3 separate regions of the Homo sapiens genome follow, and all the other regions are linked to region 3. The links come from fine-mapping of genetic effects on gene expression. A gene starts in region 3. Each other region holds a variant in brackets. All regions are shown on one strand. Distances are between the middles of the regions. Region 1 overlaps CIITA (class II major histocompatibility complex transactivator). Region 2 overlaps CIITA (class II major histocompatibility complex transactivator). Region 3 holds the start of CIITA (class II major histocompatibility complex transactivator).

Region 1 (10,402 bases), 48 kb before region 3:
AGAGGAGTGAGGTCCTCACCGAGTGATTCCATCTTCTCTTTTTTTTGAGACAGGGTCTCTGTCACCCAGGCTGGGTGCAGGGGCACAGTCATAGTTCACTGCAGCCTTGAACTGCTGGGCTCACGCAATCCTCCTGCCTCAGCCTTCCAAGTAGCTGAGACTACACTATGCCTGGCTAATTTTTAAATTTTTTATAGAGACAGTCTCACTGTGTTGCCCAGGCTGGTCTCAAACTCCTGGCCTCAAGTGATCCTCCCACCCCAGCCTCCCAAAGTGCTGGGATTACAAGCATGAACCACTCTATCCAGCTGATTCCATGTTCTCTAACACCCTATCCACACAAATCTGAGATGGGCTCAAGGATGACCACAGGCCTTGGAGATCTCTGCAGTGAGCATCTGTGCGGCTGAATCTGAGTAAAGGATTCTGCTTCAGGCTGCTGGCCAGCAGGTGTCTCAGGAGCAGGCTGGTGGAGGGCAGCTATGGAGAGACATTAGCTCTGCCTGCACTTACAGCCTGAGGACCAAGCAGGCTCTGGAGGCAGAGAAAGGCCTCAGCAAAGAAGGGCAGGTCGACCTGCAAGGAAGAGTGAGTGGAGGGAATGGGGCGGGGCACCCACAGCCTCTGCTAAGGTCTCATGGCACTTAGCAGGGTCCTCAGCGTCTGCTAAGAGCTCAGGAAATGGTACCTGCTCTCATTCAGACCGTTTCCATCGTTATTACCAAGCCAGTGCCAGCTTTGCCTCTCATAGCTGTGCATCTTTAGGCAGGTTACTTGGCTTCTCTGAACCTCAATTTCTTATCCTATTAAATGATAAGAACCTCAGTTTCTTATCCTATACGATGCATGGGTCTCAATGGAAACAGTTCCGCCCCCTTAGGTCGACCTTGGAAATAGGGTAGGAGGGCATTTTTAGTTGTTCCAGTGGCCAGGGGTGCTACTGGCATTTAGTGGCCTGGAGCCAGAGATGCTGCTAAATGCTCAGTGCCCAGAACAGCCACCCCACCTCCAAGAATTGTCCTACCCCAAATGTCAATAGCACCCTGTCAAACAACAATACATGTCACATGTTTAACATACAAGTTCTGCGAGATGTTCAGTGAAGTTTGCGGAAAGGATAGTGAGCTGGGAGATGAGGCTTGGAATCAGAGCAGGGCTTGAGGGGGCTGCAGAGGGGTTGGGCATGGGAACACGAGGTGCTACAGAGACACTGGCACCCGGCTAGGCACACAGAGAAGGCAGTGGGAAACGGGGACGTGCCAGGGGGCCAGGCCATGGAGATGATGCTGCATCCTGGGAGAAAGAGCCAAGTGGGGCTGCTGAGTAACTTGGCTGTGGCTATTGCCTTCCTGTAGGTTGCAAAGCATTTTTCCGGGCAAGGTGGAAGGTGTTGCCAAGCCCTGCCCACTACCCAGCGCTGGCTCAGCTGGCCCAGAGCTGCAAGTCAGCCCTCAGACCCTGGGTGACTCCTGAGCAGGCTGCACCAGCATCCCCCTCCTCCCTCCCAATAAACAGGACAGTCCTTCCTCTCCCGTGTGACATTGCACTGGTTCTCCAGCCCAGGGTCTCTGAGAAATTAGGCAAATTCATTAAAAAGAGTTTTATATTTGCAGAAAGACATTTTCAGCCTGAGTCTGGGGCTCCCAGTGGTTCCCTAAATTTGAGGGATGGAGGAAGACTTCCCTGCCCCACCCCAAGCCTCCCGAGCCTGGTGGATTGGTCCCTGTCCCCAGCCAACCTGGTGGCAGGGTGGGGCTTCCGTGCTAATAACCCCCCTTTTTCCTTCTTGTTAGACCTGCTCCCCTCAAAAGCTTCGTGCCAACAGAGAGGTTCCTGTTTGAACCCAGGAGAGTGGAAGAGAGATTGGGACTGAGTGCTGAGGTTGGGAAGGCACCTGCTCCCACAGAAGGGGGAACGCAAGAGGCATCCCAAGACCTCATCTGCCTGCAGTGTCAAATCGATGGCCTGGCCTTGGCTTCTGATTATTTGCAGCTGCGATGGATGTTTACAGGAACCCAGCCAGAGTTTGCCTCCCTGCACTTCATCCCGGAGCGCACCTGCTTCCCCCACTTCACCTTCGGAGAGGACACTTCAAACTGCGGACACACGCAAAAGCGACTCCCAGCTCCGTTTGATGTGAGTTGAGCCTTCAGGCCAGCTGGGTTTAGCCCGAGGCTGGTCTTAGATGCAGCGACTGTTTCAGGGGTGACTCAGAAGAAAAAGAAGCTGAGGAAGCTGTTGGGGGGCTGAGGGTGGGATTCTCGCTCCTTCATTTCAGGTTACTCGTTCTTCAGCAAGTTGGCAAAACAGACATCATGCTGGTGAGTGCCACGTTACTCCCCTGGCTGGAAATGCTTTTCTGAAAGTATGAGTGTTGTGCCTACTTAATTCTGATAAACCTGTCTAAGCAATACTTAGGAGGCTTACTTCTTTGGATTAAAAAAAAATGTATGCAACTCCAACCCCTGGGGCCCTGCCTTTTTTTTTAACTTTGAGATTCGGGAAAGGAGTTCTAGGCAGAACCTTGTGGCTGACAAACAGCAGAAGATCCAGTGGGGTTGAGAGAGTCTGCCCCAGTCGGGCTGGCGTGAAAGTCCCAGGCTGGCCCCCTGCCCCACTCCACAAGCCAGGGACAGCATTTGGGGTGTGGTGGGAAAAGCCTGAAGGCCAAGCTGGAAACCAGGCCTGAATCCCATAGAAGTGGGGGTGGGTATCCCCTGTGTCAGGCACATGGTAGACCTTCATTAAAGATAGGGGGGAAGGGCTTGGCATGGTGGCTCATGCCTGTAATCCCAGCACTTTGGAAGGCCGAGGCGGGCAGATCACTTGAGGTTAGGAGTTCGAGACCAGCCTGGCCACCACGGTGAAACCCCATCTCTACTAAAAATACAAAAAAATTAGCCAGGCATAGTGGCGCACACTTATAGTCCCAGCTACTCGGGAGGCTGAGGCAGGAGAATTGCTTGAAACCAGGGAGGCAGAGGTTGCAGTGAGTTGAGATCATGCCACTGCATTCCAGCCTGGGCAACAGAGCAAGAGAGGGATTAAATGAGTGGAATTGGGAGCTTGTAGTTTCACGGAATACAAGCAGTAATTCTCTCCAGTTTGCAGAGCACTTGATTTCAAAGCACCTTCACATACACACCAAGTGAAGCAGGGTTCAAACGATTGACCCCTTTCTACAGGCGAGGAGACTGAGGTGTGGGAGAGTACAGGCGGCAGAACTCTGGGGGGAGACAGTTGGAGCACCACTTGCCCTCAAGTGATGCTAAAGAAAGAAAAGCTACGAAATCTGAAAAGAAGACATTTGAGAGCCCCAGGGAAAAAGGTGAGCGTCAGGAGGGAGACATTTGTATGCAGAGAGAGGCCTGCGAGGAAGAGTGACCATTTGGAAGGTGCGTGGACTTACAATCCACTGGACATGGAATTGCACTATCATGCCCTGATTCCTCCGAGCAGCGCTTTACCACCTGACAAATGGGGTTCAGGGGCACTTCCGGCACACTGTGCCTGTCCCTGCAGAGAGGTCCTCCAAAGAAGTCAGAAGTCCATTCCTTTATAGGAGTGTGACTATAAGTATCACTTAGATCTGTGACACGGAGACAGTAATTTATCCACATCTTACGATGACTGTGCGTTAACTACGAAAAGATGCCCCTCTGGGTTAAAAGGCTCCACACCAGGACTCCCAGTTTGGCAAGCAGAACCCAGACTGGTTTGCAGCCCCCATGTTCCCCCTTGTCCCAGGTGCCTTTGTGCAGTGTACAGACTGGCCAACCTCACCTGGCAGCCCTGTCCAAAGAGTTTTTTTAATTTGCTAAAATATAAGACTCACCAGGGCAGGAACATCTTATTCATGACTGTGCTGTCAGTATGTATTTGCAGAATGAATGAAACCGTTAGGTGAGGATTATTTGTTCATTTTATGTTATTGAGCACCTATTATACACAGGCGCCTTGCTGGGTACAGAGGGCACAGCAGTGTACAAAGCGAGATGTTTCCCGCCCTCCTGGAGCTCATGTCCTAGGACAAGAGCAGACTGCATAAATAAGTGAAAAAGATAAAACTAGTGATGGGGTTGGAGAATGGGGCAAGTCCCGAAGGATGAGAAATCAGCCATATGGAGAGCTGGGAAGAACATTCCAGCCAGAGGCAAGAATGAAACACAGATATATGTAATAATGACAGCCAACATGTTATTGAGCTCCAATTCTTAACGTATTAGCTCACCACACCTTCACATAATCCTATAAAGAAGGTGCTGTGGTTATGCCCATTTTACAAATGAGGAGACTGAGGCACAGAGAACTAGCTTGCATAAGTAAGTGGTGAGGTGGGCGTTGAGCCCAGGCAATCTCGTTCTAGAGTCTCTGCCACTTGCCCCTAGACTCTTATCCCTCTTGAGTAGGAGTTTAGCACAGTGTCTGGCACACAGTCATCACTTATTGAGCTAATACTTTCTGAGCGCTTTGAATTTCCCTTGCACTGTGATAAGGGCTTTGCATGTATCTGCTCATTAAATAAACAGTAGTGGCCGGGTGCGGTGGCTCACCCCTGTAATCCCAGCACTTTGGGAGGCCAAGGCAGGCAGATTACCAGCCTGGCCAACATGGTGAAACTCCATCTCTACTAAAAATACAAAAATTAGCCAGGCGTGGTGGTGCATGCCTGTAATCCCAGCTACTTGGGAGGCTGAGGTGGGAGAATTGCTTGAACCCAGGAGGCAGAGGTTGCAGTGAGCCGAGATCATGCCACTGCACTCCAGCGTGGGCAATAAGAGTGAAAACTCTGTCTCAAAAAAATTAAATAAAATAATAAACAGTAGCTATCATTAACAAATCGTTAGTGTTAATAACTGCAGGCTCTGACCTCATTTCATCATCACACAGACCAAAAGCAGTGGGTCAGACCAAAAACCTGGCACATGGCACAGTGGATGATCAGAGCACACCTTAGTGCTCACTCCTGTAGGCGCACACACAGGAGGCCCATGGCCTCTGTAGAGTCTGCAAGTGCAGGGATCCCTTGCAGGGTGACACCTGAGCTATTTACAAGCTGAACCTGGATGGCAGCACCTGATACCCTTTGCAGCCAGTTCGAGGCAGGAGGTGCTTGCCTGTCTGCAAAGATCATCAACCACGCAGCCGGGTCTGGATTCCTCAGACCCTCTTGACACCCAGCTCTCACTTGCTGGGGAGAGGAGCAGAGCTTGGGAATCAGACTGATCCTGTGGGCACTGGGGCTGGTGAGCTGGAGCTGAACAGGCAGCTCCCACTGCCACCAGGAGTAAGCTAAGATGTCTTGAATTGGGGCTTCTGAGCAGACTATGCCCGAGTGAAAAGCAACAGTCGTGCCGGCAGCTCGCTGGGTAGAAAGCGGAGCTTCCAAGTCCCTTTCGGACTCCCTGCAGCCAAGGTGGGACTCCGTCTCCGCTAAAAACCAGCTCACTCCCAGGACAGAGCTGTGTGTCAGAGGCAGAGGCAAACATTCCCCTTGGTAAGCTTTTGGTGCTTCAACCTTTCTCATCCCCAAACAATTAATTTTCCACTGAATTTTAGGAAGCCACAAAGAAAAGTCCTCTCAGAAAAGAGGACTTGAGCCAAGGTGGGCTCTGGTGTGTGCACGCGTGTGTGTGTATGTGTGTGTACGTGCACACACGTGCATGTGCACATGTGGTGAAAGGAGGGTGGGTAGGACAGTAGCAATCCTTGTCACACTGGCCAACAGAATATGGCAGAAGTGGGCTGGGTGTGGTGGTTCACACCTGTAATCCCAGCACTTTGGGAGGCTGAGGCAGGAGAATCACTTGAGGCCAGGAGTTCAAGACCTGCCTGGGCAACATAGTGAGACCCTGGCTCTACAAAAATAAAACTAAAGATTAACTGGGCTTGGTGACTCACACCTGTAGTCCCAGCTATTCGGGAGGCTGAGGTGGGAGGATCACTTAGCCCAGGAGGTTGAGGCTGCAGTGAGCCGTGATCATACCACTGCATTCCAGACTGGGCGACAGAGTGAGACCCTGCCTCTTAAAACATATATATGTAGCAGAAGTAATACTGTGTGACTTCTAAGGCTAGGTTATGAAAAGTGGTCTCTCTCTATCCCCTCCTTTCTTTTTGGGACACCCTCCAACCCAGCCACCATACTATGAGGAAGCCCAACTAGCCCACATGGAGGGGTCCTAGCCAACTATTCCGTAGTGGCACTGAGGCCCCCAGCCAACAGCCAGCATTGCCTGTCAGACGTACAGAAGAATGAGTCTTCAGGTGACACCAGCCCAACCCTCAAGCTGCCCCACCTGACACAGAGTAGGACAGAAGGAGCTGTCCCCGCTGAGCCCTGCTCAAATGACAGATATGTGAGCAGAATAAATGTGAGTGTTGTTTTAAGCCACTATGATTTGGGGTGGCTTGTTACATATTAGATAACCAGAGCAGTGGGTACCCCAAAATGGTAACAGGGTATGAACTCAAACCCTGGACCTGCCTGTGACATTAAAGAGACATTTATAATGTAGTGAAAAAAGACACAGGAAATGAAGCTGTGCTTCCAGTCTGTTCCCCTCTCACCGCCCCATTAGTGTCC[C/T]ATTAGCTGTTTCCCTGCTAAGGGCTGGTGCATCTGGCCAGGCCTAGCTTTGGCTTTGGCCAACAATGTCAGTGCATTGAGTCCCATAGACAAAAGCAGCTGCCACTGAAGCCCAGCCTGTTGCAATCTGGGGAATTAGCAGGCTGGGGGTTGCCCATCAGTGTCTTCTGAGTGCCCGGTGTGCCCTGTCAAGGTGTCTGGTCGGAGAGCAGGGTGGAGAAGTACTTTCTCTGTGGCCCGGTGCAGTGGCTCACGCTTGTAATCCCAGCACTTTGGGAGGCTGAGGTGGGTGGATCACCTGAGGTCAAGAGTTTGAGACCAGCCTGGCCAACATGGCAAAACCCTGTCTCTACTAAAAATGAAAAATTAGCCAGACATGATGGTGGGTGCCTGTAGTCCCAGCTACTCGGGAGGCTGAAGCAGAAGAATCGCTTGAACCCAAGAGGCGGAGGTTGCAGTGAACCCAGATCGCACCACTGCACGCCAGCCTGGGCAACAGTGAGACTCTGTCTAAAAATAAAAAAAAAGAAGTACTTTCTCCCCAGGGTGGCAGGGGCCTGGGCAGGCAGAATGGGGCTGCCTCTGTCACTCCCTCTGGCCTGGCCGTGGCTGTCCGCAATGTCCTTCAGAGAAGGCCTCGGGGCTCCTGGGTGGACCGCAGCTGCCACCAGGCATCCACCCAACTGGGCGCTAAAGGAGCCTGGAGCCGGGCCTGTGTCTGTCAGCAGAGCAAGATGTGGTTCATTCCGCAGCCGGGCAGGGGCCAACCCTGAACCAGCAGGGGCCGGGTGCCAGGATGCTGAGGCTCATGGGATACAGCCTGGAGAAGAGCTGTGTCCACAAGTACCCAGTTCAAGGTCCAGCGTGGTTAGTGTCCTCAGAGAACATGCTGTAGCGGGAGGAGCCAGGAGAGGGGGTTTAGGCAGGACACTCTAGGAGGGGCAGCTTGACACCTGGGAAGGGTGCTATCAAGATGGGGGGATGGGAGGGGCAGTGGAATGGAGGTGGACGTGCAGCACAGTGCGGGGAGCACAGGGCTGGGGGACAGTGATCTTCATAGTGAGGAGCAGGAGACTTGTCAAGCAAGTTCATCTGAGACAAACCCGGAGCATCAGGGCAGCCACCAAGCCGAAACAGCAGCTGGGAAGGCTTGGAGTCCCCAAAGGAAGCTCTTCCAAGCACTGAGGCTGTGGGATGTGGATGGCCAACTTTCCTGTCCCCTGATCTCTAAGCCTGACCACAGGGACCAAGCTCGCAAAGCCTGGAGGACAGCTCCACCGAGCCCAGGGTGGAGATGAGGGGATGTCTCTGATGACGCATGCGTCCAAGGGTGGTGGCCTAGCCCCACCTGTGTCCCGCCCACATTTTTTGAATGCCACCTTCACAAGGACACTGCCCCCAACCCACTGCGGCTCTCCCCTCCCAAGCCCACCCTGGTTACCCTGTCCAGAGCACAGCTGGGATCATCTCAGGCTGATCCGTGAATCCTGTTGTTGCAGGTGTTCCTGGACACTGAATGGGATGGTGGGCGTCCACATCCTGCAAGGGGGGATGGGACTCAGAGCCAGGTTAGAGGAGAGAGGGCGGCCTGGGGCCCCAGTGACAGCTGCCCCCAAATCCCTCCTTCCACCCAGCCTAGAACGTTGGGGACTTTTCCCCTGGCAAGATACCGACCGGTGTGGGTCATGGGGAAAAGGAGAAGCCTAGGAGGCCCGAGATTCCTTTATGGTTCTGCAGCTGACTTGCTGTGTGACCCCAGAAAGGTTAGTTAACTGCTCTGTGCTTTATTTTCCTCATCTGTAAAATGGGTCTTGTAAGACCCACCCTGTGCGTCTTAGAAGAGGTGAGTGATTGTGGAGATAAAAGTGCTTTGAAAGAATATAAAGTAACCAGTATTGGACATCATGGTGACTTAATAAAAGATAAACCTGAACCATATGAAATTGCCAATTTTACAGGTCAAAAATGGGTGGATGTCAGCAATTTCATATGGTTCAGCCTAATATAGCATTTATTGGCATTTTTGTGTGCCAGCTACTGTTGTTATAAGAGCTTTGTAGGGCTTGATTAGTTTAAGCCTCACAAAACCTCTTGGGTGGATATTATTACTGTCCCCACTTTACAGATGAAGAAGCTGAAGCCAGAGGGGGAAGTGTCTGCTCACCCAGGGTTGCAGATTGGTGAAGGGAAGAGCATGATTTGAGCTCCGGGGTCACACTGGGCCACACGCCTGGGGAGTGAGTTGTTCTCCACCCACCAGGGTTGCCTGGACTTACGCCAGCGTCTCCACATGAGGACACCTCCGAAGGCTGGCAGCGAGCTGCTGGGCCCCGGCAGCCGTGAACTTGTTGTACTGGACGCTGGCAAGAGAAACTCACCTTGGGGCCTGGCCCTTGGGACTCCCCAGCTCCAGACCAAGGCCACCCCCACATCCAGCTCTTCCAGGACACCAGGGAGAGACTTCAGTGTCTCCCACCCCGGGCTGAGCCACCCACCGCCCAGACTCCCACACTCACTCCATCACCCGGAGGGACACCATGTCCGGAAGCACACGAGCCAAGCTCTCGGCTCCCACGTCGCAGATGCAGTTATTGTACAAGCTGTCGGAAACAGAGGCCAGGGGGAGGGATTGGAGGCCTGTGCATGGTCAGCCTTCCAGAAGCCACCATCCCTAGATTCCAGAAAAAGCCTGGTCCCACTATCCCTGGGGGAAGGAATCAATATTTATTGCACAACAGAGCCTGGCATTGTGCCAAGTACTTACATAGGCCATTGGGATGGTTCCCATTTTCTAGATATGAAAATAGAGGCTAGGAATGAATAAGTGACTTGCTCAAAGTTTCTGTCCCCAGGTCCCACTAGTTCTCTTGTTCAGGGCTGTGGTGATTGCTTCTAGGATCTCAGTGTCCCCTGCAGCCTGGAGGTCAGCCCCGTGGGAGTCACCACCTACTGGGATTACTGCCCCATTTTAAAGACAGGCAAACCAAGACCCAGAGAGTTGAGACCACTTCTCTGTGGTCAAACAGTGAGCCCAGGAAAACAGCAGGACTAAAAGGAAGTCATTTCTTGCCTTACTGTGTGGAAACTGTCAGAACAACTTCCCAAGTTCAAATCCCAGCTATGCCTCTTACTGCCTATGTGACCTTGGGCAAGCTACTCAACTCTTCTGAGACTCAGTTTGCCCATCTGTAAAATGGGCATGATAGAGTCATTGTGGGGAGGAGTAAATGAATCAATGCTGATATAACATTTAGAACATGCCTTGGTGCCTAGAATGAACTAAATGTTAGCTATGGTTCTGACTACATCACAGGAACATTGGTGAGGGTCGCATGAGTTAACATAGAGGGTGTGACCAGCACTGGGGGCAGGAAGAGAAAAAGCCAGTCACTGGACCAGCTCCAGTTTCTGCAGCATATTCACAACCAGCATTAGTAGCAGTGAAAATAGCATGATGAGTGTCACTGATGCCAACTTCAGCTGTTTACTCGACACCAAGCAGCCTTTTAACAGGTCAGGTGCTGCTGCGGGTATGATTTCAGGGCCATGACTTTGCCATGATTCAGCCTCAGAACTCCCTTGCAGGGCTGCATATAAAAGCAGCAGGTGCAGTGGCTCACGCCTGTAATCCTAACACTTTGGAGGCCGAGGCGGGTGGATCACCTAAGGTCGGGAGTTTGAGACCAGCCTGACCAACATGGAGAAACCCCGTCTCTACTAAAAATACAAAATTAGCCGGGTGTGATGGCACATGCCTATACTCCCAGCTACTTGAGAGGCTGAGGCAGGAGAATTGCTTGAACTCGGGAGGCGGAG
Region 2 (8,000 bases), 32 kb before region 3:
TTCTTTGGTAAAATTATGGTGCCAGCAGTGGGTATTTTGTTGTTATTTGTTTGTTTGAATGAGCATCCTTGATAAACATTAAAAAACAGTAACCGCGCACGGTCACTCGAATTCATTCCGAAATGTTCTCGGCCTCTGAAATCCTGAAGTCTGAGAACACTGGCCTCAGCAAAAGGCCACAGGATCAGAGTTTGACTCCAGGATCTGGCATTTGGCTCCCTGCTAAAGGCCTTGGCAAATCCCTTCACCCTTAAGTCTTGATCTCCTCAAATATTTCACCCCAATCTTATGGGGGTTCTTGGATTAAGGCATTCGTTGTTAAATATTGACCGCTTGCCTACTATGTGCCAGGCCCAGGGAGGAAAGTTGTGGGCCAAACAGACGAAAATCCCTGCCTTCTGGGTGCTGACATTCCAGGGGGGAAGATAGACAGATAATCAAAGAAATCGGAAAGCAAGCTGATGTCTGAGACAATGAATCATATGGAAATATACAGTGGTGAGGGGGATGGAGTTTTTTTTTTAACCATGAGGGGAATGGAGTTCTATTTATTTATTTATTTATTTATTTTTGAGATGGGGTCTCACTCTGTCATCCAAGCTGGACTGCAGTGGCGTGATCTCAGCTCACCGCAACCTCCGCCTCCCGGTTTCAAATGATTCTCCTGCCTCAGCCTCCCAAGTAGCTGTGACTACAGGCACCTGCCACCATGCCCAGCTAATTTGTTTTGTATATTTAGTAGAGATGGGGTTTCACTATGTTGGCCAGGCTGGTCTCAAACTCCTGGCCTTGTGATCCACCTGCCTCGGCCTCCCAAAGTGCTGGGATTACAGGCATAAGCCACTGCGCCTGGCCAGAGTTTTATTTTTAACTGTGAGGGTCAGAAAAGACCTCACTGAGGCCGGGTGTGGTGGCTCACGCCTGTAATCCCAGCACTTTGGGAGGCCGAGGTGGGGGGATCACGAGGTCAGAAGATTGAGACCATCCTGGCTAACACGGTGAAACCCCGTCTCTACTAAAAATACAAAAAATTAGCCAGATGTGGTGACATGTGCCTGTAGTCCCAGCTACTCGGGAGGCTGAGGCAAGAGAATCACTTGGACTTGGGAGGAGGAGGTTGCAGTGAGTCGAGATTGTGCCACTGCACTCCAGCCTGGGTGACAGAGCGAGACTCCACCTCAAAAAAAGAAAAAGAAAAAAGGAAAAAGAAAGAAAGAAAGGGAAAGAAAGAAAGAAAGGAGGGAAAGAAAGAAAGAAAGAAACAGGGAAAGAAAGAAAAGAAAAGGCCTCACTGAGTAAAGACCAGAGGAGGTGAAGGCATGAGCCATGCAGATATCTGGGGAGAAGTATTCCAGGCAGAGGGCACAGCCGGTGCAAAGGCCTGGAGGCAGAAGCATGCCTAGGAGGTTGAAAGCCAGCAAGGAGGCCCTGTGGCTGGAATGGAGAGAGCACCCAGCGAGTGTAGGAGATAAGGGTGAACAGGTGAGTGGGGACTGAACTGGGGAAGGACTCTGTGTACAAACGAAGTCCCTGTAGGGTTGTGAGTGGCTAAGAACCCTGATTTGACAGACAGATGAGGTCTACAGGGTGCCTGGGCACAGTAGAAGCCTGAGAAAATGCCAGAAATAGTCTTTTCCTTCCTTCCTTCCTTCCTCAGAACCTCCTCGGGGGCTTCCGGTCTCCAGGTGGCTGATCACCCGGCTCTAGGCTGTTCCACCCCATGGCCGCTGTTCCCCAGAGCGCAGTTCCGATCTTGAACTAGGGGCTTTTTCAGCTGAAAATAATTTAAGGCCAGAAAGGGCCCTCAGTTATTGTTTTCAGACATTTCCCCTTTTCAGCATCATTTTTACCTCTGGACAAATTTAGCACCTTGTCTCTGTTCAAAACAAGAGACACTGGCTTTTTTCTGGGGCACAGGGGAGCAGTGATCAGGGAGAGCTGATAGCTTGTGGGTGACCAGCTGGGGGACCACGGGCAAGTCACTTAACCTCACCAGGCCTCCGTCTCCTCATCTGTAAAATGGGGAAGATGATGACTGTCTGTCTTCCACAGTAGCTCTTGAGATTAATGAGATTATATATAAAATGCACTGAATTATAAGCTGGGCATGGTGGCTTACACCTGTAATCCCAGCACTTTGGGAGGCTGAGGTGGGAGGAACATCTGAGGCCAGGAGTTCAAGACCAGCCTGGCCAACATGGTTAAAGCCCGTCTCTACTAAAAATACAAAAATTAGCCAGGTGTAGTGGTGTACACCTGTAATCCCAGCTACTCGGGAGGCTGAGGCAGGAAAATTGCTTGAACCGAGAGGTGGAGATTGCAGTGAGCCAAGATCATACCACTGCATTCTAGCCTGGGTGACAGAGCAAGACCCCATCTCCAAAAAAAAACAGCACCGAATATACCACAGGCATAACAACTCCTTCCTAATCATTAGATGATCTAGACCCCTACCAAGGAACAAACATTCATTTAGCTTTTTCTGTGGAAGGAGCTTAGGGCCAGGCTGACCTGACCTTTATGACTTTGGATAAACAATTTAAAGTCTCTTGTTCTCAGCATTGCCATTTGTACAATGGGGAGATGATGACAATGCCTGTAGAGGAGGGTGGCCTGAGATAATTGAGATGGAAGGTGAGCTGCAAATTTAAAAGCCTGTTCTGGCCAGGTGCGGGAGCTCGCACCTGTAATCCTAGCACTTTGGGAGGCTGAGGTGGGAGGATTGCTTGAGCCCAGGAGCTCGAGACCAGACTGGGCAACATGGTGAAATCCTGTCTCTACAAAAAATACAAAAATTAGTCAGGTGGGGCATGCCTGTAGTCCCAGCTACTAGGGAGGCTGAGGTGGGAGGATCACTTGAGCCTAGGGAGGTTGAGGCTGTGGTGAGCTGTGATTGTGCCACTGAACTCCAGCCTGAGGGACAGAGTAAGACTCTGCCTCAAGAAAGAAAAGAAAAGGAAAGAAAAGGAAAGGAAAAAGAAGGAAGGAAGAGAAGGAAGGGAGGGAAGGAAAGAGAAAGAAAGAGAATGGAAAGAAAGAAAGAGAAAGGAGAGAAAGGAAAGAAAGAAAAGAAGGAAAGAAAGAAAGAAAGAGAGAGATAGGGAGGGAGGAAGGAAGGGAGAGAGAGAGAGAAAGAAAGAAAGAAACAGAGAGAAAGAAAAAGAAGAAAAGGGGGAAGAAGGGAGGGAGGGAAGGAAGGAAGGAGGGAGGGAGGGAAGGAAAGAAAAGGAAGGGAAAGGAAAGAAAGAGGAAAGAAAGAGAGAAAGAAAGAAAGAAGAAAGAAAGAAAAAGAAAGAGAGAAGAAAGGAAAGAAAGAAAGAAAAGCTATATTCTGACAGATCTAAATATAATAATTATTGTGCTTTCTTGGGGCCCATGTATGGTGGGCTGCCCCTCCTCAGTGACCCAGACACAACTGGACTCCCTAGAGCCTTGCCTAGGTCTCCATTTCTGTCACCCCAGCAACACTGCCTAGGGTGT[G/TG]GCCCCCAGCCCTGGCCACACATAGAGCAACCAACTGTCCCAGTTTGCCTGGGACTAAGGGGCTTCTTGGGATGCAAGACTTTCAGTTTTCAAACCAGGATAGTCCCAGGCAAGTAGGGTTGCTTTTTCATCCTAGCTGCACATCAAAAGCTCCTGGGAATTTCAAAATGGGGGAAAGATTCTCCCTGGGGAGGCCATCCCTTGGCTGTGGAAGTAAACAAGCTCAGGCACAAGGGACGTTGTGCAGTTCCTGGCCACAGGAGGGAAAAGGACTCCATAGTCATAGTGGCATCCTCCTATGGAAGGTTGGGGACACATTGGGCCTTTTCTGATCCCTGGCGAAATTACAATTCCTGGAAAGCCTTTCTTACTCCCCTCTCCCCACTCAGCTCATTCCTTATCCTCACTGAAGCTTCAGTGCAGATATCACCTCCTCCAGGAAGTCCCCCTGACCTCCTCCAGAGGGGAGTTGATTAGACTGTCAGCTCATGAGGACAGCAGCCTCAGTCATTCAAGTGCTCAATACCTCTGTTGAATGAGTGATGGGAATGACCATGTTAACCAGCAAACGGGTCCATTAGCTTCAAATCTGAGAACCTCCAGCATTTGCCCACACTGGTCACTTTCCAGCTGCTGGAAGCTATTTCCAAAGTGGTGGGCAAGAGGGTAAGAATGATTCTGGAGATCTATCTCCATTCAGGTGGTACAAGCCCAGCTAATGCTGCAGGGGAAACCTTGCGCAGACCCACAAGACAATCCACCCCTTTGCTTACGCAAACTCCAGTTTCTTTAGGTCCCGAACAGCAGGGAGCTCCCCAGCTGTGTCTTCCGAGGAACTTCTCGTCCTGGAGAGAACAGGCAATGTTAGGGGGAGCAGGCACTGCTGTCACTGAGCCCTTACCCATGGGTCCCATGATGGCTGCCCCAGTGCCCCAAATTCCCCAGGGGGATTGCTTTCCTTGGGGCAACTGTTGTCCCCCTCTTAAAAAAAAAGATCTGTCTGGGTGCGGTGCCTCGTGACTGTAGTCCCAGCACTTTGGGAGGCTGAGGCAGGAGGATTGCTTGAGGCCAGGAGTTCAAGACCAGCCTGGGCAACATAGCAAGATCCCTGTGTCTACAAAAACTTAAAAAATCATCCGGTGTGATGACGTGCACCTATAATCCCAGCTACTTGGGAGGCTGAGGCAGGAGGATCGCTTGAGCTCAGGAGTTCCGAAGCTACAGTAAGCTATGATCGCACTACTGTATTCTAGCCTGGTAGACACAGCGAGACCCTGTCTTTAAGAAATAATAAAAATAAAAATAAAAGATCTCAGGACTGTATCTTTCATGGAAATGAGCCTCAGATTAGGCACTTACCAGTACCTATCCCAGACAGCACTTAAGAGGCGCTCAAACAATGTGTGATGAAGGAATGAATGAAAGACAGTTAACTTGTTCTGTAATCAAGTTTTGTCTGCCTTCTGGACCTTAGCTCTGCCGTCTATAAATTTGGGACAACAGTTGTCCTAAATGCCTCAAAGGGTGGCAGTAGGTGTCACTTCTGTTACTAGGTGCACAAGGCATCCTTGTTAACTCCTAGAAGGGGAGAGGTTCTCCATGGCTTTAGCTAAGACTTGGGCACATGATGGCAGGTTTTGAATGCAGCAAAGTTTTCAATTCTAGAGGCTCCGCCTGGGCAGCGAGTGCAGTGAGAGACTCTGGTTAGCCATTGCCCAGAAAGAGGGCATGGGGTGTCCCAGAGGACAGGGGGCACTGGAAATGCCCATGACAAACTTGAGAATGGGTCCTACATGTCCTCAACCTGCATGGCGTGAACCACCTCCCATCCGCCTCTCCTCTCACCTCTGAGTCTGCACAAGCTTTCCCAGGTCTTCCACATCCTTCAGGGACTTGGCTTTGAAAGGCTCGATGGTGAACTTCTCCTCTGCTGCCTGAAGTAGCTTGGTCTCCCCATGCTGCTGCAGGGACTCCCACAGCGCCACCGTGTCGCTCAAGGCAGCCCTGTGGAGGGAGGGCCTCAGACCCAGGCACGGTGACCAGGCTAGACCTTAATGGAAGGGCAGCTCCATGAAGGGTCCTCCTACCTATTAAAATACTTTCTTTCCTTAGCTCAACCTCTACCTTTCCCAGAAAGCCTTCCATGACCACTCCAGCCTTTATTGATTCCTACTTTCTCACAACTCACACAGTGGTTTTCTTTCCCTTTTTGCTTCGGCTACCAGGAAGCTCACTGCTAAATTATTGGCACAATTATGTAGGACCTTACAGCTTGGGTAAAGTATGTTTAGGGGGAAATATGGAAGCAATCCTCTGGCGATTAAGCTGAAATGCTCAAGCAGATTGCAGACCGACTTAATGAAACCAAATTAAGGAATTTAGCCTTCATCCTGACAGTGGTGGAGTGTCCCTGAAGGATTGTAAGCAGGGATGGGATACAATCAGATTCAAGTTCTGAGAAGATTGGTCTGGTTGCTGAATACAAAATGGAGTGGAAGAGGAGAGAATGGAGGCAGAGAGTCCAAGGGGAGGCCATGGCTTTACTCTTAGCATAAGAAAACGGTGGCGTGCTCAGGGGGTGGAAAGAATAAAACAAATTTGAGCCCAGGTCAGTCTCAGATTCTAGACATACCCCAGTGACTGGCACATGGCGGGCCTTCAAATATTGACTGGGAGAATGCCATTGCCTCTCACTTGCTGTGTGGCAAGTGGCTGCCCCTCTCTGAGCCTCAACATCCTCATCTTAAAAATGGAGAGAATCCATTCTGCCCCACCCGGCTGCTCTGCATACTAAAAGAGACCCCACAGAGCACTGGGCTTGGCACCAAGACCGCAGTTAATGCCCAACACAAGGATGTCTCTTCCCCAAGCCCCTCACCCCACCTGAAACGGGTGACACAGCTGAGTCCCACGAGGCTCCCCAATCCAGAGGGGCAAATGCCAGTGCTGCGGAGGTCCAGGGAGAAGTCTTGGCCCGCCGCCTCCAAGGCCTTGCCCAGTACATGTGCATCAGGAGGCGTGAGGCGGGTGCCCAGAAAAGAGAGGCGGCCGGGGAGCTCCTGTACCACGTGCTGCCAAATTCCAGCCTCCTCGGCCTCGTGGGCGCAGTGCAGCAGCTCCAGCAGCTGCCGCGCCCGCAGTGTCCCCGGCTGCAGCCGCTTCAGGTACCTCGCAAGCACCTTCTGCTTCCTGTCCACCGAGGCAGCCGCCGATGGCCCGAGTAGGGCTCCCAGGCAGCGGGCGGGAGGCTGGAAGATCAGCCCAGCCAGAAAGCGTGGCACGCCCTCCAGCCAGTTGTCATAGGGCCTCTTCTTCCTTGGGGTCAATGCTAGGTACTGCGGGAGCTCCTTGTCCTTGATTTCGCCACTCAGAGCCAGCCACAGGGCCCCCAGGAAGCATTGCAGGAGGAAGCTGGGGAAGGCCAGCTCGGACTCTGCGGCCCGCGGTGGGTGTTGGACTAAGCCTTTGGCCATCGCCCAGGTCCTCACGTCTGCGGATGGGAACTGGTCCTCCTGTAGGGTACTTTGATGTCTGCGGCCCAGCTCCCAGGCCAGCTTGGCCAGCTCTGCCAGGGCCCCGGGGGGGCTGTCGAGGGCTGCACGGCCCAGCAGGCCGACATAGAGTCCCGTGAGCGTGGAGGGCAGCTTGGCGTCCTCCCCAAGCTCCAGCAGGGCCTCTGAGAGCTGGCACACTGCCCGGCACAAAGTAGGGCTGTGGCTGTGACTGAGAAGAAGTGGCCGGTCCCGGAGGAGCGTCAGGGCTCTGTCTTGGTGCTCTGTCATCCCTGAGCTCTCAAAGTAGCGCATCACGTATGCCTGGGCCTGCTCCATGGAGAAGCCGGACAGCTCAAATAGGGCGTCGGCCTTGCTCAGGCTCTGGACCAGGCGGCCCCGGGGCCGGGCTGTGAGGAGGAGGGTGCAACCTCGGAGCAGCTTCTTCTGGAAAAGGCCGGCCAGCAGCCCCCGGAGGGAGCAGGGCTCCGCCGGTGCCGGTCCGCACGTGCTGTGCAGGAAGCCATCTTGCGCTTCCAGCTCCTCGAAGCCGTCTAGGATGAGCAGAACGCGGTCAGGTCTCTTCAAGATGTGGCTGAAAACCTCATCGGCCGCCACGAGTGGCTGTGGGCCCAGGGAGAAGAGCAGATCCTGCAGGCCATAGGCATCCCCCGGACGGTTCAAGCAATGGCAGGGGACAGAGAAGACAAAGTCGTACTGGGGAAGCCGGCCACAAGCCCAGGCCCGGCTCACTGCCCCAGCCCAATAGCTCTTGCCCTGACCAGCTTTGCCCAGCACAGCAATCACTCGTGTCTCACGCGGCCGCCGGTGCTCCTTGGCAGCCAACAGCACCTCAGCCAGGCCTCCTTGGGCCAGCTGCCGTTCTGCCCAGTCCGGGGTGGCCAGTTCCCGCTCCAGGCTCTTGCTGCTGCTCCTCTCCAGCCTGGCCTGCACCAGATCCACCTCCACTAGGATGCCATCCGGGCCTGCGGGCTCGGCACCATACGTGTCCTGCAGTGAGCGGTAGAA
Region 3 (8,000 bases):
ATTAGAATACTATTCCGCCATAGAAAGGAATTACACATGGCACGACATGGATGAACCTGGAAGACATTATGCTAAGTGAAAGAAGCCAGGCACAAAAAGACAAATATCACGTAATTCTATTTATAGGCGGTGTCTAGAGTAGCCCAAAACATAGAGACAGGAAGTTGGAGTTACCACGAGCTGGGTGGAAGGGGCAGTGGGGAGTTATTGCTTATTGGGTAGAGTTTCAGTTTGGGAGGATGAAAAAGTTCTGGAGATGGATGGTAGCGGAGGTTGCACAACAGTTTGAAATATTTAATGCCACTGAAATGTACATTTGAAAGTGGTTAAAATGGTAAATTTTATGTTATATGTATTTTACCATGATTTTACAAAAAGAAAACTTTTTTTTCCATGTATAAACGGAAAAGCAAAACCAAACCAACAGTATCACTTGTGGTTGAAAAAGAAACAATGTTACTAAAATAATCTCAGCTTCTTTACCACTTTGTTAAAAAGAAATCTTAGCAAGCATTAGGGCACTGTCAAACATCAGGGAAAATCAGAGACTTTGTCCTTGATGTCAGAAGGATTGAAGGAATCTGAAAACTATCTATGTCCTTCCTATGAGAATCGGTGGTAACTAATGCCCCTTTCTGAACTGTCTTTTGACTGTGTGTGTCTTGGTCTTTGGAAACCTCCCATCTGCCTATGCTTTCCTCTCTGACTTTTTTCTCTCTCTTTTTTTTTTCCTGAGACAGTCTTGCTCTGTTGCCCAGGCTGGCGTGCAGTGGTGCAATCTCAGCTCTCGGGTAACCTCCACCTCTCGGGTAAACTCCGCCTCTTGGGTTCAAGTGATTCTCGTGCCTCAGCCTCCCAAGTAGTTGAGATTACAGGTGTGCACCACCATGCCCGGCTAAAACACAAAAAAGTGTTTTAGTAGAGTTGGGGTTTCTCCAGGTTGCCCAGGCTGGTCTTGAACTCCTGGCCTCAAGCAATCCACCCGCCTCGGCCTCCCAAAGTGCTAGGATTACAGGTGTGAACCACTGCTCCCGGCCCCTCTCTGATCTTTCTAAACAATCCCTTTAGGATCTATAATAATTATTCCCAATGCATGAATATTCTTTGGTGGTTTTCTAAAGTGCTTTTTCTGTACACATCAGACATCATCAAGCAAGCTCTCATGTTTTATCCATTTTACAGATGAACCTCAGAGAGGGGAAGTCACTTGTCAGTGTGACTCAAGGCAAATCTGAGGCTAAGTCCAGAAGTTTCCTACCTCCCTCCAGCCACTTCCCTGATTGCCTGGAACTAATCCAGAGTTTCCTTGGGTTAATTTCTGATTCTGCTCTTCTCAAGGTATCTGAGGCTGGGTCTTAGGACATGAAACCAAGCCCCAGCCATCAGACAGACTGGGTATCAACAGGTTTCTCTCTGACTGCCTGGGACCTGCCCTGCATTTGTGGAGGTTCACATCTGCTTGCTGCACTGGGCTGGGCTCTCAGTAGACCAGGGTTCAAATCCTGCGTCTGCAAACTGCTTGCTATGTGGCGTTAAGCAAAACAAAACAAAACACCTCCTGGTACTCCTTTTCTGATAGAGGTTTTGTAACAGGGAGAGAGTAAAGAGATGAGACCACATCAGCGCCTCCCAGTGTCTCTGACTTGAGGGACTTTTGCCCCACAAACGAACATTGGAGTCACCTGGGATAGATGGTTTAACCTGCAGGATCTCAGCCTCACCCCAGGCCTAGCCAACCGGGCCTGGGGGTGAGCCCGGGAACCTACATCCTGAACAGGTTGATCATCCCAGGTGATGTTCATGTGTGGGGAGCCTGGGATTCCCCACTCAGTCATCTCCAAAGACCCTGCCTCCAAACGCTCTGAGATTGTTGGAGACCAGGTCATCCCCTAAGGGAGCCGGGGGTTTGCAAGGTGATCATTTGTTGGAGTCAAGTTCCTTTGGCTCCTCTTTCTCCAAGAGGAAGAAGTACCTGTTTCCTTAATCTCACTCCGGAGAAGTATTTATTTATTTTTTCTCTGGAGTGGGGAGCAGAAACGGAAGACTTCCTGCCAAAGTTAGACACTCCAGGCTGCGGCTGGGGAGGGAGCCATGCCTTGAACTTCTAGGCTTTTGCCACCTCTCCTGTGCCACCTAGGGTGGAGAGGGGCTGTGGGACTCAGGAGGACCGCGGCTTTTAAGAGTTCCAGACTAAGCTAAGCATGGTGGCTCCGATTCCGGCTTTCCTGGACCCCAGGGAGATCCAATCTCCCACTCCCACCCCGGCATTCGCACGCTGGCTTTCCGGGGCGCTTTAGCCTCTCTCCTTAGAGGGTGTGACTCAGGGCCCCAAAGCGAGGTAGAGAAGTGAGAGATCAAGAGATCGGTTCAGTCCGGGGGGATCCCTCCCCCACCCCTCCCAACAACACACACCTTCGCCAAGATGTTCAACGAGAGTTGAGGACTTATCCCATCCTCTGGTTAAAGGTTTGGCTCCCTACTGCCTCCCTGAGCAGGGCCCCCCGCCTGGAGAGCCCAATACCCAAGATTCCAGAGTTAGAGATGGAATATGACCCAACAGGGAAAGTGAAGCTCAGGGAACGGCGGCCCTGGTCCAAAGTCTGGCGTACAAGAAGGGCGCGCACCTCTGCAGGATCCCGGGCGCGCGGAGTCGGCCAAGGGTGGCCGGGGGAGTGTGTCTGCTCCGCGCTCCCAGTCTGCGCTCCGGCTTCTCTGCAGAAGCTGCCGCCAGGCTTTCCTGCCACCCGCCCACGGCCCCGGAGCTCTGGGCACAGCAAGCCAAGCTCCGGGTTCCCGGCTCCTGGTTCCCGCGCAGAGTCGTTGCGGGGATGCTGGAAACGAGGTGTTTCCCGGCCCTACATTTTGCATATTCCATCCCCCCATCCTCCCAGACTTGCTGTGTGACCTTGAGCAAGTAGCTGACAGTCTCGGAGCCTCGATTCTCAGCCCGACCTTAGGGGTTACAGAGGAGACTTTGGTCACCTACCGCTGTTCCCCGGGCTCCCGCGCGCGCTGCTGGTGGCCTCTCCCTCCCGCCAGCTCTGGGGCCGCGGCAAGTCTGTGGCAGCTCGTCCGCTGGTCATCCTACCTCCCCGCCTCCCCGCAGTTCTTTTTCCCTTTCACTTTCTTTCTGCAGCGCTGAGCTCGGGCCAGGCTGTGGAGCAACCAAGCACCTACTGTGGCCACCACGTGCTTTATCAGAAGTGGCATCCCAACTGCCTGGGGCATCCAAGAGGTCCCTGCCTCCAGTCGGTTCCTCACAGTGGCCAGCCCCACTTCGGGGAGAGTCCCAGGCCCCGGGCCAGGAGCCAGGAGCTAGGGAGCCACTTGGGCAAGTGATCTGCAAGTCCTGAGTTGCAGGGAGCTTGTCCCCACCCCTGGGTGGGTCTCTGTTTCTCTCCAACTCAGTCCAACCGTGAAAGTGGCAAACCACCTCCGAGGGCACATGGCCCCTGAGATGAGCTAACTGAGCTATTCACTCCTCTGATGCTGGCCCTAGGGAGGAAGAGAAAATCCCTCAGGTACCTTCCATGGATGGAAAACCTGTGTTACCATGACCACACCCCCAGCCGTGGCAAGAGCCCTGCCGGTCCTTTTCAGAGGTCTTGGATTCCTGCTGGGTCCTCCAAGGCATGAGACTTTGAGGTGGTCACTTTCCCTTTTCAGGCCTGAATTTCCTCATCTGGAATTGAGGGAGGGGGCAAGGTTACCTCTGACTTCTCCCCCTCCAACACTTTCCCGTAGCAACTTAAGGCTGCACCCAACCACACCGGCAGACCTGTCATCAGTCTCTGGGTTCAAAGCAAACCATACATTTCAGGGGAGTCTGAGAAAAGGGATACCACCCCTTTAACCATCCAACAACAGCAATGCCAATAAAATTGAGCTCCTATGAGCTCAATTCCAGTTCCTATAAAATATTGGACACTGTGCTAGGTCCCTCATCATTACCCTTTCATACAGGCTTTCCCACAGGTCCATTGTACACTCCAGGAAAATTGACTCGAGAATGTAAACGACTTCTTCAGGGGCACACCCTTCCCAGCCAACGGTGTAGCTGCCATGCTGCCTTCAGAGCCGGTGCCAGGTGTCTGCACTGTGCTCTTCCCACCATCTGTTCCCCCGTCCCCTGACCCTTTTTAAACAACACCATTAGGAAACTGGGGGGAGGGCAGCATCCGCCAGCTCTCCCCAGCTGCTGAGGGCTCAACAGCTACACCTCAAGGCTGACTCCAATTTTGGTTTCCCTGCTTCTCTGGGTATGGAGTGGAGTCTGGCAGAGGTCCCGTCCTGCAGAGGCACCCCTCAGTATTTACCCAAAGGGAGGCGAGAAGACCTTGCTGTGGGCCGAGCCAGGCCAGCATGCTGAGAGTTAGTGACACACTGCCCGAAAGTCTGACTTCTAGAACCTTTCGGTGCTGATACATGGTTCATACTCCAGACACCTGGCTGACCTGAAGTCTCCCTCCGGTGGAAGGAAATAGACAACTCTTTCACATCTTCCAATGGCCTGCCCCAGCAGGACACAGACTCCTGTTCCCATCCTCACCCCCATCCCCAATTCAGAATGGTTTCTCTGTTTATCTGGAATGGCAGGACCAGCTGAGACTGCACGCTAAATTAAGATGCTTTCCCGGCCTTTTTACCTTGGGGCTCTGACAGGTAGGACCCAGCAGGGCGTGGAGCCAGGCAACGCATTGTGTAGGAATCCCAGCCAGGCAGCAGCTCCCGGAGTCTGGCAGCCCCTCCTCGTGCCCTCAGCTTCCCCAAGGATGCCTTCGGATGCCCAGCTCAGAAGCACACAGCCTCATCACTAGCCTCATCACTAACCAGTCACCAGTTGGGAGCCCGCCAAGCTAAGCCAACATGCAAAGAAACAAGTGAGGGATCATCAAAAAAACTCTCCCTGCAAGGTGGCCCCAAGCGGTCAGATTTCTGTTTCTGAACACCCTCTAATTTTACCACACTCCCTTAAGCCCTCCCCACACCTCTGAAATTAATTTCACTTCCTTACTGTGGACTGAATTTGGTGAAGACAGAAAGTTGCACAGAAAGTCTGTTGGGGGAACCTTCAACAGTCTGACGTTCAGAAATGATGATCACAATGGAACCGCACTGGTGCCAGCTGCCAATATCTGCCACCTTCTGCAGGATGGGGCCAGTATCATAGCCCTCCGCCCAGATGCCTCAAGACAAGCTGAGAGCCTCTGCTGGGGACTTCTTAGATGCTGCTCTCCTCTACCATGCCTACTCCCACACCAAATTGCCCTGAATTTCTCTGGAGATCATAAGTGGCCCACCTGTCATTTTCATCCCAAGACATTGGACTAAAACATAAATTATACCAAAAGAGTGTTAACCCAAATATGGTACCCTTGTAGTCAGATGGTTTGGGGTGACCCGCCAAAGTGATGCTAAATAATACTGACTCCCATAGGGAGAAAGTTAGTGTCTTTTCCAGTCTCTGCCCATCCTCCTGGTGGTATCAAGGAGGAAGTCTCAGCTTGGTGTGAACATGTCTTTAACACCTCTTCTAATATATGATCACTCTGTTTTATAGAAAGCAGCTCTCTAGCCTCAGAGCCTTCTACAGTCAACAGTATCTTGCTATAATCTAACATCACTCTGCTTTCTTGTTAAATGGTTACCTCCTGTTTTTGCCATTTTTTCCCTTTATAATGGGACGTAAAGTTTTATTTGAATATAAAGTAGATGGCTGGGCCAGGTGGCTTGTGCCTGTAATTCCAACATTTTGGGAGGCCGAAGCAGGAGGATTGCTTGAAGCCGGGAGTTGGAGGCTAGCCTGGGCAACATAGTGACACCCTATGTCTACAAATTGTTGGGGTTTTTTTTGTTTGTTTTTGTTTTTTTTTAGACGGAGTTTCACTCTTATTGCCAGGCTAGAGTGCAATGGCATGATCTTGGCTCGCTGCAACCTCCGCCTCCCGGGTTCTGGGTTCAACTGATTCTCCTGCCTCAGCCTCCCGAGCAGCTGGGATTACAGGCACCTGCCACTATGTCCAGCTAATTTTTCTTTTCTTTTCTTTTTTTCTTTTTTTGAGACGGAGTCGCGCTCTTTCGCCCAGGCTGGACTGCAGTGGCGCTATCTTGGCTCACTGCAAGCTCCGCCTCCTGGGTTCACGCCATTCTCCTACATCCAGCTAATTTTTCTACAAATGATTTTTTAAAAATTAGCCATGTATGATGGTGCACAACTATAGTCCCAGCTACTCTGGAGGCTGAAGTGGGAGGATCGAGTGTGCCCAGGAGTTGGAGGCTGCAGTGAGCTATGATCATGAAATACACTCCAGCCTGGGCAACAGAGTGAGATCCTGCCTCTCCTAAAGAAAAAGAAAAGAAAGATAAGTAAAAAAGGTGAGTGGTTAAAAAAAACCCTGTCATAAATAATAGTAAAGTGTTATGTGGAAAACACAAAAATGATGAAGGTGGTACTGAAATGAAGGTTTGGAAACATGACTTGTGTGCCTCATGCATTTTTGCTGAAAGAGCACTGGACGGGGAACTTAGTAGCAGGTGTGTGACCTTGGCCTCTTTACTTCCTCTCTGTGGTCCTCAGTTTCCCCATGTGTGAAATGAGGATGATGCCCTTCTTTGTAAGGTGATTACTTTGAAGCCTTCACTGTTTTCAGAAGTCCCCGGGTGAGGAGTGGGGTAGAAATTGACAAATAAGAAATGCTGAGTCAATTTGAAACAGCCTTGCTTAGTGGGGCTAACAAACGGATATGGTGAATGTCAGAAATTCTAAGAATGACCAGGCACAGTGGCTCATGCCTGTAATCCTAGTCCTTTGGGAGGCTGAGGTGGGCAGATCATTTGAGGTCAGGAGTTGAAGACCAGCCTGGCCAACGTGGCAAAATCCTTTCTCTACTAAAAATACAAAAATTAGCCTGGGCGTGATGGTGCGTGTGCTACTCGGGAGACTGAGGGATGAGAATCACATGAACCCGGGAGGTGGAGGTTGCAGTGAGCTTAGATAGTGCCACTGCACTCAAGCGTGGGTGACAGAGTGAGACTCAGTCTCAAAAAAAAGAAAAAAAAAGAAAGAAATTCTAAGAAGTCTCATTATCCTATGACCTGGTGCCACGGGAGAGGCGCCTCTGACTGCTCAGCTGTCTTGAGGTCCCATATGGGGGTCCCTTTATGTTCTCAGAGACAGCTGGTTCTGATGTCCCCCCATCCCACCCTCAGACCGATGGCCAAGGCAGCTTTGGAACTTAGAATGGGCCAGCCAGGACTACCATCTCTCACCTGGGTGACTGCAGCTGCCTGGTACATCTTCCCTGTACCAGAGGTTCGTTTCAGTACCACCTTCCTCATCTACATCTTCCCTGACTCCTCCAGACCCAGTTCTTGTCCACAAGACCTGAACCTGACCATGCCTGTGTCGGTGCAGGTCTCTGAGCAGAGCAAGTGACATCCGTCAAACTGTGTGTTTGACTGATGGCAGAGGATGCACTTTGGCACCTGAAGGCACCAGGGTAGAGAGTCTACAGATGAGTGGCAGTGGTACCCAGCCAGGAGCTGAGGCACACCTGGATTTCAGCTGTGGCAGGTGAGGGTGTGGGGATGGAGAGGGAGGGGGCCGGATGTCTCAGAGGCAGAATGACAACCTCTAGCACTGAGTGAATGGGGGCAAAGAGCACGAGGAGGAATGAAGCCCACCCCAGGCTTCCTCTCTGTTGAAACACCTGCATCCTTGTTCCTGCCTCTTAAAGACTCCTGCAGGCCGGGCGTGGTGGCTCACGCCTGTAATCTCAACACTTTAGGAGACTGAGGCGGGCGGATCACCTGAGGTCAGGAATTCGAAACCAGCCTGGCCAACATGGTGAAACCCTGTCTCTACTAAAAATAGAAAAATTATCCAGGTGTGGTGGTGCACGCCTGTAATCCCAGTTACTTGGGAGGCTGAGGCAGGAGAATTGCTTGAACCTGGGGGAGGTGGAGGTTGCAAGTGAGCCGAGATCACACCACTGCACTCC

The links. PIP is the estimated chance that this variant, and not a neighbour inherited with it, causes the effect.
Region 1: its variant is fine-mapped to the expression of CIITA in whole blood (TOPMed, PIP 0.95).
Region 2: its variant is fine-mapped to the expression of CIITA in whole blood (INTERVAL, PIP 0.97).

Annotation. Positions count from the first base shown.
Region 1 is chr16:10,920,951-10,931,352 of GRCh38, reverse strand. CIITA (class II major histocompatibility complex transactivator) reads right to left here. Exons shown (of 20, transcript NM_000246.4): 17 at 9,103-9,186; 18 at 8,863-8,946; 19 at 8,028-8,125; 20 at 1-7,475. The coding sequence ends at 8,050. It overlaps DEXI (Dexi homolog), which reads left to right. Exons shown (of 2, transcript NM_014015.4): 2 at 1,794-2,462. Among named protein-coding and RNA genes, the nearest start is that of DEXI, 16 kb to the left of the region's middle. RefSeq lists an enhancer at 681-730. The variant C/T (reference allele first, on the strand shown) is at 6,587.
Region 2 is chr16:10,906,513-10,914,512 of GRCh38, reverse strand. It overlaps CIITA (class II major histocompatibility complex transactivator), which reads right to left. Exons shown (of 20, transcript NM_000246.4): 11 at 6,364-8,000; 12 at 5,326-5,484; 13 at 4,254-4,325. Among named protein-coding and RNA genes, the nearest start is that of DEXI, 32 kb to the left of the region's middle. RefSeq lists an enhancer at 2,056-2,105. The variant G/TG (reference allele first, on the strand shown) is at 3,481.
Region 3 is chr16:10,874,029-10,882,028 of GRCh38, reverse strand. CIITA (class II major histocompatibility complex transactivator) reads right to left here and starts at 4,827. Exons shown (of 20, transcript NM_000246.4): 1 at 4,647-4,827. The coding sequence starts at 4,698. RefSeq lists enhancers at 2,204-2,283, 2,854-2,973, 3,054-3,103, 4,524-4,573, 4,614-4,693 and 2 more.